Regions from separate parts of the Homo sapiens genome. Here region 1 is reported to be linked to region 2. Evidence: microRNA targets listed by miRTarBase, many of them from high-throughput screens and not tested one by one. Region 2 holds a microRNA gene; the other region holds the end of a gene's coding sequence.
Evidence for each region. Region 2 holds the annotated microRNA hsa-miR-4438 (CACAGGCUUAGAAAAGACAGU, at 1,706-1,726, opposite strand). A microRNA usually pairs through its seed, bases 2 to 8, with sites in the 3' UTR of a target mRNA and lowers its output. Matches are read on the target gene's strand: a 7mer-m8 pairs with bases 2 to 8, a 7mer-A1 pairs with bases 2 to 7 and ends in A, and an 8mer does both.

Region 1 (3,000 bases), not on the chromosome of region 2:
AGACAGACATCTGTAGCAGTGAACGTGGTTTTTTCAGGTTTACTCTGGAATCTGAGGGTGTCAGCTGCGTGAAGCTGCAGATGAACTTCTGAGGACATGGGACACAAGCAATCCCAAGAAACCTCTTGAAATACTGCTTCACATGCAGCTTAATAGGGAAGAAAGTCTGAGTTGCTGATCAGCTAACAGGAGATGCTGGCCCACAAAGGTGGCCTTTATTAGATGAAGGCTGAATTTAGATTACTTGGACTTTGAAGCTGCTGGAAGCTTCCAAGTCTATGTTGCAACCCAGAGCCCACTGAGTTCTACCATGATATAGAATATCCTCTTCTGTAACATGGGGGTGAGGTGCTCCATTCTGAGGGGTCAGGGGGTTGCTCAACTTGACGGACAGCACTTCCACATACCAGGAACTTGCCACTTCACTTTCCAGAAAAATTTGCTTGGCCTCCCATCTTCACTGCATGATATATTCCAGCTTGCAGTAGTGAAGGCTCCTCCATTCCTTGTGGTAGGAAAAGGGAGAGGGCCCTCAGAGGCTGTGTGTGTGTGTGTGTGTGTGTGTGTGTGTGTGTGATGCACAGATGTTACTTATCTGTGTGATTTCTACTGAAAGCACTGAAGGATTAAAGACGGGGAAGGTGGCCGGGTGCGGTGGCTCATGCCTGTAATCCCAGCACCTGGGGAGGCCGAGGTGGGCGGATCACAAGGTCAGGAGTTTGAGACCAGCCTGGCCAACATAGTGAAACCCCAACTCTACTAAAAATACAAAAAATTAGCTGGGCATGGTAGTGGGTGCCTGTAGACCTAGCTACTCGGGAGGCTGAGGCAGGAGAATCACTTGAACCCAGGAGGTGGAAGTTACAGTGAGCCGAGATCACACCACTGCACTCCAGCCTGGGCGACAGTGCAAGACTCTGTCTCAAAAAAAAAAAAAAAGAAAAAGAAAAAGAAAAAAAAAAAACAGGGTAAAGGAACCATACTTGCAGGACGACTGTACCACTCAAACTTTTGAACACGGACATGGCCCTTGCCAGAGAATATCAATGGTGCTAGTGACCACTTCTTGACTCATGGAATTACTCAACATTTTTCTCACCACTGTCAGCATGAGTCTTTAAATAGTGGAAGGCCCAGATGGAGGAGAGGAAATGACCACTTCCAAATGCAAAAGCAGAAATTCAAAGCTGTCTGCTTTCCTATGAATATAGAATTACTACCTCCAGAAACCTAGAAAAAGCAGGGGAAGGACCAGGATGCAGCAGTTTATCCTGGGAGTAGTAAATGTACTCTAATGCAGTGGACACAGTGGACTGTACAGCCAGGGGAAGAGAGTGGGTCAGAGCATTCTGAGAACTGGCCTTGGGGCTTTCACCTCTTATATCAATTGCACATAGAGAAATGGGCAGCGACAGATGGAGGTGACTGGGAATAGTACAACGTAAGTGGGTGGGATCATTGCACCTGAAGCTGAGCAAGTCCCTGACTGATGTGTAGAGTCACTAAGTACAGAACAATTGGAGGGTAAAGGCGGCACAGGCAAAGCCCCTCCTTCAGGTGCCATCCCAGGATCAGTCAAGCTGAAGCCCAGAGGAAATGCATAACTCAAGAATTTTGATCAAGTTGTGCCTTCTGGACAGAGATACCAAGTTCTGAAGGCTGGATTTGGGTGTGATATTCAACATCATGGACTGTGTCTGAGACCAGACCACCACACTCCCCATAGGGGCAGTGATAGGTGGCACCATGCAGACAGTTAGGCGTTGCTAAGTCAGAAGAGGGTCATTTGGGGCAAATGAATCGTCTCACAGGGATTCTACAGGGATGAAGCCAGCAGACAGACCAGAGAGATCTGACAATGGATGGTTTGAAGCAAAAGGCAGGAAGCATGGTTTAAATAAGTGTGGGTGACGTACTTTCTCTACACTGGGTGTCGGTGGTGTGGGTGAGGAGAGGACTAAGGCTTCCATTAAAGCTGGCAACTCTCTTATGTAAGAGAATCTAGTAGAGTGCAACGCTCGTAGGCCATTTTACCTTTTTGTTCCTTTGCTTTTCAGCTTTAATTTTTACAATTTCAGTTTCTCTAATAGTCAAAATGTAATTTGATAAACCAATTTTTTAATGCTGTTAATGAAGCTCCATTTTGGTTCTGATGCTTGGTAATTCAGACAAATCAAACAGTACTGCTATTTGAGGCAGTATTAAAGAATGAGGAGTGTTTGCCATTCTTTTTTTTTTTTTTTTTTTTGAGACTGAGTCTTGCTCTGTCGCCCAGGCTGGAGTGCAGTGGCACGATCTCGGCTCACTGCAACCTCTGCCTCCCGGGTTCATGCCATTCTCCTGCCTCAGCCTCCCGAGTAGCTGGGACTACAGGCGCCCACCACCATGCCCGGGTAATTTTTTATATTTTTAGTAGCGATGGGGTTTCACCCTGTTAGCCAGGATGGTCTCGATCTCCTGACCTCGTGATCCGCCCACCTCGGCCTCCCAAAGTGCTCCCAAAGATTACAGACGTGAGCCACTGTGCCCAGCCGAGTGTTTGCCATTCTTAAATGCCCAAACCCCATGACACTGTGAAACCTGACCCTCAGTAAATAAAGTGACTATCTTGATGCAAGCTTTCATAGTTATTCTCTAGAACGGATTATCTCACATTCAATAATTCATCTACTCAGTCTCAAAGGTCTTCCATACAAACTGCATTCATATCACTTCTCTCCAATATGATGTCTCTGATGCTGAATGAGGTTTGCAGTCTGGTTAAAAGCTTTCCCACATTTATTACATTTATAGGGTTTCTCTCCTGTGTGAATCCTCTGATGTTGAGTCAGGTGAGTGCTTCGGATAAAGGCTTTCTCACAGATTTTACATTTGTAAGGTTTTTCCCTAGTATGAATTCTCTTATGTTGGGTAAGGGCTGAATGGTCACTGAAGGCTTTTTCACATATGTTACATGTATAAGGTTTTTCCCCAGTATGAATTCTCTGATGTTGGGCTAGT
Region 2 (3,161 bases):
GGCCAGGATGGTTTCGATCTCCTGACTTCATGATCCACCCACCTCGGCCTCCCAAAGCGCAGGGATTGCAGGTGTGAGCCACTGCGCCCAGCCACTATTTGAATTCGTTATAGCTTATAGATGTTTCCCTACATTTCCTGCATTACTATCTTTTATATTTAGTTGTCTATTTTATTTTCTTTAGTGATTTGCTTAAATTTCTTTCTCATTTCCTTGTATATAGCTATTTTCTTGGTGGTTACCATAGGGATTATATTTTAGATCCTGCATATATAACATTCTAATTTAAATTTGTACCACCATAACTGCAATAATATATAAAAACTCGGCTCCTTCAAAAGCTCCATTCCCCCACCCTCTCAATTTTTGATGTCACAAAATTATATCTTTATGTATTATACAAAAATATAAACATGTAAGTATTTTAAATTCATTAGTCTCTTAAATTATGTACAAAACAAAATTGGAGTTACAAAGCATAATATGAACTTTTATACAAATTTAAATATATATATATTAACCTCTTAAAGCATGTAGAACACGAAAAGTGCAGTTAAAAAGTATTGTTACAATAATATAAGCTTTTATAATTTTCTATGTATTTTCCTTTATTAAGATCTTTATTTCTTTACACAACTTCAAGTTACTGTCTAGTGTCTTCTCATTTCACTCTGCAGGAGGATTTCTTGCAAGTCAGGTCCAATGGTAACAAGCTCTCCCAACTGTTGTTTTCCTGGGGATGTCTTAATTTCGCCCTCACTTTAAGGACAGTTTGGCTGGATATAAGATTCTTGTTTGATAATGTTTTCTGTTTTTGTTTTTCTTTAGCACTTCGAATGTCAGCCCACTGCCTTCTGGCCTGCAACGTTTCTGGTGAGAAATATACTGATAATCTTACTGATTATTCCTTATAAGTAATATATTGATGTTTTTCTGCTGCTTTTAAGATTCTATCTTTGTCTCCACCTTTTAAAGCTTTGATTATAATGTATTTCAGTTTATGTCTTTTTGAGTTCATCTTCCTTGAATTCTGTTGGATTTCTTGAATGTTTATATTAATGTCTTTTATCAGATTTGGAAAGGTTCTATCCGTTGTTTCTTCAAGTTTTCTCTTCTCTTTCTCCTCTCCTCCTGTGACTCCTTGATTGTGTCACACAGGTCCCTTAGACTCTGTTTACTTTTTTCAATTCTTTTTCCTTCTGTTCCTTGATTTCCATTGTCCTATCTTCAAGTTTACTGACTGTTTCCTTTGCTTGCTCAAATCTTCCTTTGAATCGCTCTAGTAAATTTTTTATTTAAGTTGTTGTACTTTTCAGCTCCCAATTTTTTTTAACTTCTTGTGAGGTTTCCTATCCATTGAATTTTTTTCATTTTGTTCATATATCATTTTCTTGACTTTCTCTATATCTTCCTGTAGTTCTTTGATCATTTAACACAATTATTTTAAAGTCCCTCTGTAGCAGATCCACCATCAAGTCATTTTAGGGATTTCATATTTTCCTTTGGACAAGACATAGTTTCTTAATTTTTTGTATGAATTGTGATTTTGGATCTAATAACATAGTAACTCTAAAAATTAGATTCTCCCTCTTACTGAGAGTTTGCGGTTACTTCAGTCAATGATTTTGCTTTTTATATTGTCATAAGAGGATTCTGTTGTAGGCTATCTCTGTGCCAAGAATCAGTCTGAAGTGTAAACTTAAAGACTGTCTTTTCTAAGCCTGTGCCAAAGGAAAGGCAAGGCACAGGCTTAGAAAAGACAGTCCTTAAGTTTACACTTAGTAACTTAGTCATTTTCTGATTGTCACCATATGTGCAGTTACTTTGAATGCCCTACTTTTTAATGTCTAGCTGTCAAAGGGGGAAAAACAGAAAAATAAAGTAGGAGAAGGGCACTGGCCCTTTTAATCTTCTGGAAGTCACTTCAGCCAGCAGGGAGGGGCTTGCAATAATGGATAGAGGTGCAACAATAACCACTCACCTCTTTGCGTCCATCTTTGTGACCAGAAACAGCAATCAGCAATCAGAGCAAAGATTGCCGATATTTGGATGACAGGTCCTTTTTTTGCCCACTCTGGTTCCTGCATGCTCTGTGCAGACTGCTCCAGTAACATGTGCACAGCTGCCTGCTACAGGGGTGACTGTGGGAAATGGGTAGCTACTACTGTGGTTAAGTGCTGAAATTGACTGAAATTAATCATAATTCGCCATGCAAGCTTTCCCCTAGAAGTTGCAAGCCTTTAGTAGATGTCAAAAATCCAAAATAGTTATATATCAGACAGATTCTGCCAGTACAATTGTTCTCTAGGTGGGAAGACAGATTCCTGGTGCTTCCTACTCCACCATATTTCTATAACTATTTCTCCATAATGTTTTAACTACTGTAATTTTGTAATATCCTTTGAAGTCAGGAAGTGCAGGACCTCCAGCTTGTTCTTTAGATTGTTTGGGCTCTTTTTGGTTCTCTGCGGTTGCATATGAATTTTAGAATTGCTTTTTCTATTTCAGAAAAAAAAAACAGCTATGGGTATTTTGATATGGATGGTATTTAACCTGTGGATAGCTTTAAGTAGTATGGACAACAATATTAAGTCATCTAATTCATGAATATATATGTCTATTTATTACCATCTTTATTTTCTTTAGAAATGTTTGTAGTTTTCAGAGAACAAGTCTTTAGTCTCCTGTTAAGTTTATATTTCTATGTATTTTTGATGCTATTTTAACCCAATTTTTAAAAATTTCCGTTTCAGATTTATGTTAGTATATGAAATCACAACTGATATTTGCATATTGATTTTGTGTCCTGCAACTTTGCTGAATACATTTATTAATTCTAGTAAGCTTTTTTATGTGGAATATTTAGGATTTTTTACATTCCATTTCTTTATTCCCTCTTTGCTCTATAAAGACAACACCATAAGGGTTTCATATGCTAAACATTCAAAAACACTTCTTTAAAAAAGCTATCTACTATCAACTGCCTCAAAGCCATCATTGAGATATTAGCTGAATATAACAGTTATTACATCATTTAATTTCAGTGTCAAAGCTTTACTTTCTTCATATAAAAAAAAACTATTTGAGTGTCTTTTTAAATAAATACACATGCATACCCACACATATCCTAGGCCGTTAAATTTTAATTGGCCTGGTATACA

Region 1: the mRNA of ZNF454 is a reported target of hsa-miR-4438. Seed matches in the 3' UTR shown: 7mer-A1 at 2,369-2,375.

The regions. Positions count from the first base shown.
Region 1 is chr5:178,965,682-178,968,681 of GRCh38, reverse strand. It overlaps ZNF454 (zinc finger protein 454), which reads right to left. Exons shown (of 5, transcript NM_001178089.3): 5 at 2,249-3,000. The coding sequence ends at 2,709. Among named protein-coding and RNA genes, the nearest start is that of ZNF454, 26 kb to the right of the region's middle.
Region 2 is chr2:213,756,687-213,759,847 of GRCh38, reverse strand. It overlaps MIR4438 (microRNA 4438), which reads right to left and starts at 1,781; the gene lies at 1,689-1,781. The region is part of intron 10 of SPAG16 (sperm associated antigen 16); the gene reads right to left.